Regions from separate parts of the Homo sapiens genome. Here region 2 is linked to region 1. The links come from fine-mapping of genetic effects on plasma protein levels. A gene starts in region 1. The other region holds a variant in brackets. All regions are shown on one strand. Distances are from middle to middle.

Region 1 (2,919 bases):
AACTCAGTCATTTGGAGCAGGAAGTAGCCAGATGGAATAGTGTTCTGGACTCACCACTTTACTGAAGGCAGCTTTGGATTTTAACTGATCCTCTGCCTGGAAACTTTCAATTTGCCTGGATCACTTATTCATTCAACAAACATCTATTGAGTAGCTACATTGTGCCAAACAGGGAGCTAGTCACCATGGAGAACAATGAACATGGCAGTCTGCTCCTTCATGCAACTCACATATCGTAAAGAAGTGGCTTGAGACGAGCAACTTGAGAGGTAATTAACCTTCACAATGCATTTAAATGTTTCTGGAGTGGTCACTTACTATTTCTTCCAATTGGAAAAATAGTCCAGGGTGGATGCCAGTATTACCCCAGTGTTTATAGCAGCAAAATAGGGTGGCATGTTGGTTAAGTATGTAGGAGCTGCAGCCTGCACCTGAGGTTCAAATCCCTGCTTTACTGATCACTAACACTGTGATGTGGGTATTTCAGTTTACTAAGTCTCCGTTTTTGTCTGTGAAATGGAGATTGTTGCTTTCACAAACTGAATATCTATGATGGGCCAGGCTCAGTTCAAAGACATTCATGTGCTCAAAGGCATTGGGTCCTAGAGCAACGTTTTCCAGATCTTCGTGACCATGATGTACTAAAAGAAAAACATTTTATGTTGCCAGGTGCAGTGGCTCATGCCTGTAATCCCAACACTTTGGGAGACTGAGGGGGTGGATCACAAGGTCAGGAGTTTGAGACCAGCCTGGCCAGCATGGTGAAACCCCATCTCTAATAAAAATACAAAAATTAGCCGGGCATGGTGGTGGGCGCCTGTAATCCCAGCTACTCGGGAGGCTGAGACAGGAGGATTGCTTGAACCTGGGAGGCAGAGGTTGCAGTGAGCTGAGATCGTGCCACTGCACTCCTGCCTGGGTGACAGAGAGTCCATCCCCCCCCCCCAAAAAAAAAAAGACAGAAAGAAAGAAAAACATTTTATGTCATGATCTAGTGCAGTCGCTTCTGCATGTATGTGCACACACACATAAAATTTTATAAGACAATTGATATCCTTACTACATTAAGTGATTTAATTCTTACCACAACCCTATGAGATAAGTATTATCCTAGTTTGCAGATGAGAAAACAGGGGGACAAAGAGGCTAACTGCTTGCCTCAAATTTGTATTGCTTACTGACATATTCTATTATATTTAATTAAAAGAAGTCCCTGGATATAACCCACAAAAGGAATGATTTTATGACCCGCTAATAAGATGCGACCTAAAACACTGCATATTGTCACTGGGATTAACTAAGATGACATATGTCGAGCAGGGCCCAGCACATAGCAAGTTGTTCATTGTTGTAACCCTGGTACCTGGCACATAATAGGTGCATAACTAATATTCATGGAATAAGTCAAAAAATAGTAGTCATTGTTACTAGGACAGAGAGGATCAAAGAGAGGAAAACTAACTTACTAAAGATCATGAAGCCAATAATTGGCAGAATAATGACTCAAATCCAGGTCTGACCCCAGTGTCCAAGGTCTTAATTTCCTCTCCTACCTCCCTCAAATAGGATGGGGAGAAGCTGGGCTAGGAGAAGACAGCTACAGATAGCCTTACCTGAAGCCAGAAAGGTAGAGTTAGTCTGGTCATGATGTGCCTCATACTTATATATACACATTTGCCCCAGGCTGGCAATCTCTCCTCCAATTAGTCTCTAGTTCTGTTTTTTGATATTGTTTTCTTGGGGGTGGAATATTTTTTCCTCCTGGCATAATGTTTGCCTTGTCCAAGCTGTGAGGTTGTTGTTGTTCTTTTTCCTAATAGCTAGAGACCCCAAATGATTGACATTGGGGGGTCACACCTGTGCCCGGAAATACAAGGTCACTGTTTCGCACCTTCTAACAGCAAGAGATTCCATAGTTAGAAATTAACTGGGAAAGCAGTGCCAAGGTGCTGGGCTTCTTCTTGGTCACTGACAAGGGCAGGGTGGGATCAAGGAGCCAGGCAGAAGCCAGTATCTGAAGCCAGGCTGCATAAGGACAAAAGGGATATTCACTGCCCCAGATGGGAGGTGCACCTGTCTTGGAGAGGGCACCCTTCTGAAACACCCATTCTCATGAGATCAGCCTTAGAATCCAGACACAAGCAAGAGAGGAGCTGAGAATGGCTGAAAGTCAGAACCAGAAGGTAGTTCAGACATCACTGGACCTGACCCACTCTGTACAACAAAGAATCAGGTCTGATGACTGGGAGGTCCCTTTGGAGGCGAAATAAATTTGCACTTAAATAGACTGACTTTGGAGTCAGTCTGCCTCCTTTATCTGGTGTTTATTGTGTGGCAGTGGGCTCATTTCTTAACCTTCCTGAGGTCCAGAGGTCAATTTCCTTGTCTATAAAATGAGAATACCCATCTCCCACAGTAGTAATAGTAACCAAAGGAGATGATGCAAGTAAAGTCATATAGTAATGATTATATTCATGGAAGTAGTGAAAATTCTGCTTTGCTGTTGTGCAATCACTGAGGTAGAAAATGACAGAGCCTGAGTTAAAACCATGTCTTCAGACCCAGTTCAACATACATGACATTCCAAAAGTCAGTGTGAGAGTGGCTGTCATCATGTTGAGAAAAATAAAATATGTGTGAACTTGGGCTGAGCAGGAAAATATCACCATGATCACTGCATTGATCTTTTTTTTTTTTATACTTTAAGTTTTAGGGTACAAGTGCACAACGTGCAGGTTTGTTACATATGTATACATGTGCCATGTTGATGTGCTGCACCCATTAACTTGTCATTTACATTAGGTATAACTCCTAATGCTATCCCTCCCCGCTCCCCGCATCCCACAATAGGCCCCTGGGTGTGATGTTCCCCTTCCTGTGTCCAAGTGCTCTCATTGTTCAATTCCCACCTGTGAGTGA
Region 2 (2,919 bases), 29 kb after region 1:
CATGTCTCTGGGGCACACTGTATGCACTTCTGTTGGGTGTATAGCCAGCAGGAGAATTTCTGGTCATAGCAGATGCCATGTTCAACTTTAGTAGATATAGTTAAGGTCATGTTAAAAGCCACAATGAGTCAAACCTATGGAAATTCATGTGAAGCTGATATGGTGGCTTCAAGAGAAGAGAGAAGGAGGAGGCATCATGCCACCCTCAGACCTTGGTACCCCACATCTGCTGTAATTCCCTCCTCTGAGATATCAGCCTCAACACTGAGTTTCTGTACAGTGTTTCCAGCCATCTTTAGGTAAAAATAAGTCACACTTGGAAACAAATGGTTTCTCTTATATGCTTTTGTCTGGCAAAAGTATATTGTAAGTGATCCAAAAGGAATTGATTTACAAAATCTGAAAATATCCAAAAACAAAACCTGCCAAATGAATTTAAATTTCAGGTCATCAGAACCATTGCTCTGATGTCACTTTGTGCCACCCTCTGCCCTTTCCACACTCCAACGTTACAGTTATCTTCCAGAACACTGGCTTCAGCCTTGGCTTGTCCCTCCTGATGGGCTGCCCTTTCCTCAGCTCTTCAAGGGCAGTGCCTTCTTCTGCCTGTTCAATTCTCAGTTGGTTCTTCTTTTCTTTTAGCCAATCACTCTCTGTCTTATGACCTGTTCTATTTTCTTTTCTTTTATTTTCTTTTTCTTTTTTTCTTTTTTTTGAGATGGAGTCTCACTCTGTTGCCCAGGCTGGAGTGCGGTGGTGTGATCTCAGTTCACTGCAACCTCTGCCTCCTGGGTTCAAGCAATTCTCTGTCTCAGCCTCCGGAGTAGCTGAGATTACAGGTGCCCGCCACCACACCCAGCTAATTTTTTGTATTTTTAGTAGAGATGGGGTTTCACCATCTTGGCCAAGCTGGTCTTGAACTCCTGACTTCGTGATCCACTCGCCTTGGCCTCCCAAAGTGCTGGGATTACAGGCGTGAGCCACCGTGCCCAGCCGAGCTACCCTATTTTCTTCATTGAGTCTATCCCTTCTTGAAATTATTAGAATGATTTTTCACTAGCTTGTTCAGTGTGAGCTCCCAGTAAGCTCCTGTAATGCCTGGCACATAGTAGATGCTTAAGAAATCTTTCTAGAATGAATGAATGGGCTGAATGAATCATCAGGGAAGCTGGCTTGAGGAAACTTGATCTTGGGCCATCTTCTTGGGGACGTGTGAGCTCCATTTGCCCCTCTGGCCCCTGTGGGACCGAGGTAGTTATGAACTCTGCAAATTGTTGATTCCTTTGTGCCTGCAGATCAGGCACTGCCCTTGTCAGGGACCTCCTTTGGTGCTTGGCTCTGTGCCAGAGGACACGGTGACAACTGAGGT[G/A]TGAATGCAATGTCAATGATTGACTAGGACCAGCACTGGGCTGCATATTTCCAGGCACAGACTGTGGCTGCATCATTAATAGAGGCCTAGAGGCAACCTGAGTCTCCCTCCTTCCAGAGCAATGGCCATGGCCAAGTCTCCTGCCATCAATCCTTGGAGATTAGATGAGAATGGGACTGGGGCTTTGACCCTGCAAGGACTAAATCCCACCAGTGTCCTAAGAGGAGTTTTCATCAAAGTCACATTGCAGAAGATGCGTAAAGCACTGTCTCCTCTCAGCTCAGAGGAGCCCTGGCAAGTAGGCAGAACTGGCCTTACTCATCCTGTTTAGAAAATGAGAAATTGGGCCGGGTGCGGTGGCTCACACCTGTAATCCCAGCACTTTGGGAGGCCGAGACAGGTGGATCATGAAATCAAGAGATTGAGACCATCCTGGCCAACATGGTGAAACCCCATCTCTACTAAAAATACTAAAAATTAGCTGGGAGTGGTGGCACATGCCTGTAGTCCCAGCTACTCGGGAGGCTAATGCAAGACAATCACTTGAACCCGGGAGGCGGAGGTTGCAGTGAGCCGAGATCGCACCACTGCACTCCAGCCTGGCAAAACAGTGAGACTCCATCTCAAAAAAAAAAAAAAAAAAAAAGAGAAATTGGAAGCCTGGTTGTAAAAGGCTCGTTGAAGTTCCCATGGTTACTGCTCATCCTAAAATCCAGGCATCCTCAATCCCTGTCCCAGCTTCATCCTGGCATTCCCTTTGCCCTTTCTCTGGTTAGAAGTAATACTGAGGAAGCAAGCCCAGCAGAAATATGGGTGGGTACTTTACCCTATGCCCACCTGCAGTGGGTGCTTCCAATTCCATTGTATTCAAAATCTAAAACTTTTATTATTATTATTTTAAAATTTAGAGACAGGATCTCACTCTGTCACCCAGGCTGAAGTGCAGTGGTGCAATCATGGCTCACTGCAGTCACAAATTCCTGGGTTCAAGCAATTCTCCCACCTCAGCCTCCTAAGTAGCTGAGAATACAGGTATCTGCCACCACACCTGGCTAAGTTTTAAGGTTTTTGTAGAGACAGGGTCTTGTTATGTTGACCAGGCTGGTCTCAAACTTCTGGGCACAAGTGATCTTCCCATATCAGCCTCCCAGAGTGTTGGGATTACAGGTTGAGCCACTGCACCTGGCTCAAAAACTATTTGTTAAGAACTTAATTGTTCCAGGCATTGGACTAGAATGAGAAAACTAATAGTCTGATAATAATAATGAACACATCTGCCTCTTGCTTAGAGTACAGCGCAATGTAAAGCGGATTTCAACATACTATAGCCTGTAGTCCAAATCTGGCCTGCTGTTTGACTGTATAAATAAAACTTTATTGGAACACAGTCATTCCCATTTGTTAACACGTGGCTGCCTTCACATTGCATCAGCAGATCTGAGTAGTTACAACAGAGACTGCCTGGCCTGTAGGATCTGGAATATTAATAATCTGGGCCTTTGCAGAAAACATTTGCTGACTCCACCACTACTCACTGGGCAGCTTTGAGG

Which allele goes with the higher level. Positions count from the first base shown, and alleles are read on the strand shown. Strength reflects both the effect of a copy and how common the allele is.
In carriers of allele A in region 2, the plasma level of the protein whose gene starts at base 1,640 in region 1 tends to be lower than with G alone (strong association).

The links. PIP is the chance, under the fine-mapping model, that this variant and not a neighbour inherited with it causes the effect. Protein levels are from antibody-based Olink assays in UK Biobank. Linkage for the fine-mapping came from a reference panel and not from the study's own genotypes, which makes the PIPs less certain.
Region 2: its variant is fine-mapped to the plasma level of the UMOD protein (UK Biobank, PIP above 0.99).

What each region holds. Positions count from the first base shown.
Region 1 is chr16:20,351,076-20,353,994 of GRCh38, forward strand. It overlaps UMOD (uromodulin), which reads right to left and starts at 1,640. Exons shown (of 11, transcript NM_003361.4): 1 at 1,614-1,640.
Region 2 is chr16:20,379,641-20,382,559 of GRCh38, forward strand. The region is part of intron 3 of PDILT (protein disulfide isomerase like, testis expressed); the gene reads right to left. Among named protein-coding and RNA genes, the nearest start is that of PDILT, 24 kb to the right of the region's middle. The variant G/A (reference allele first, on the strand shown) is at 1,370.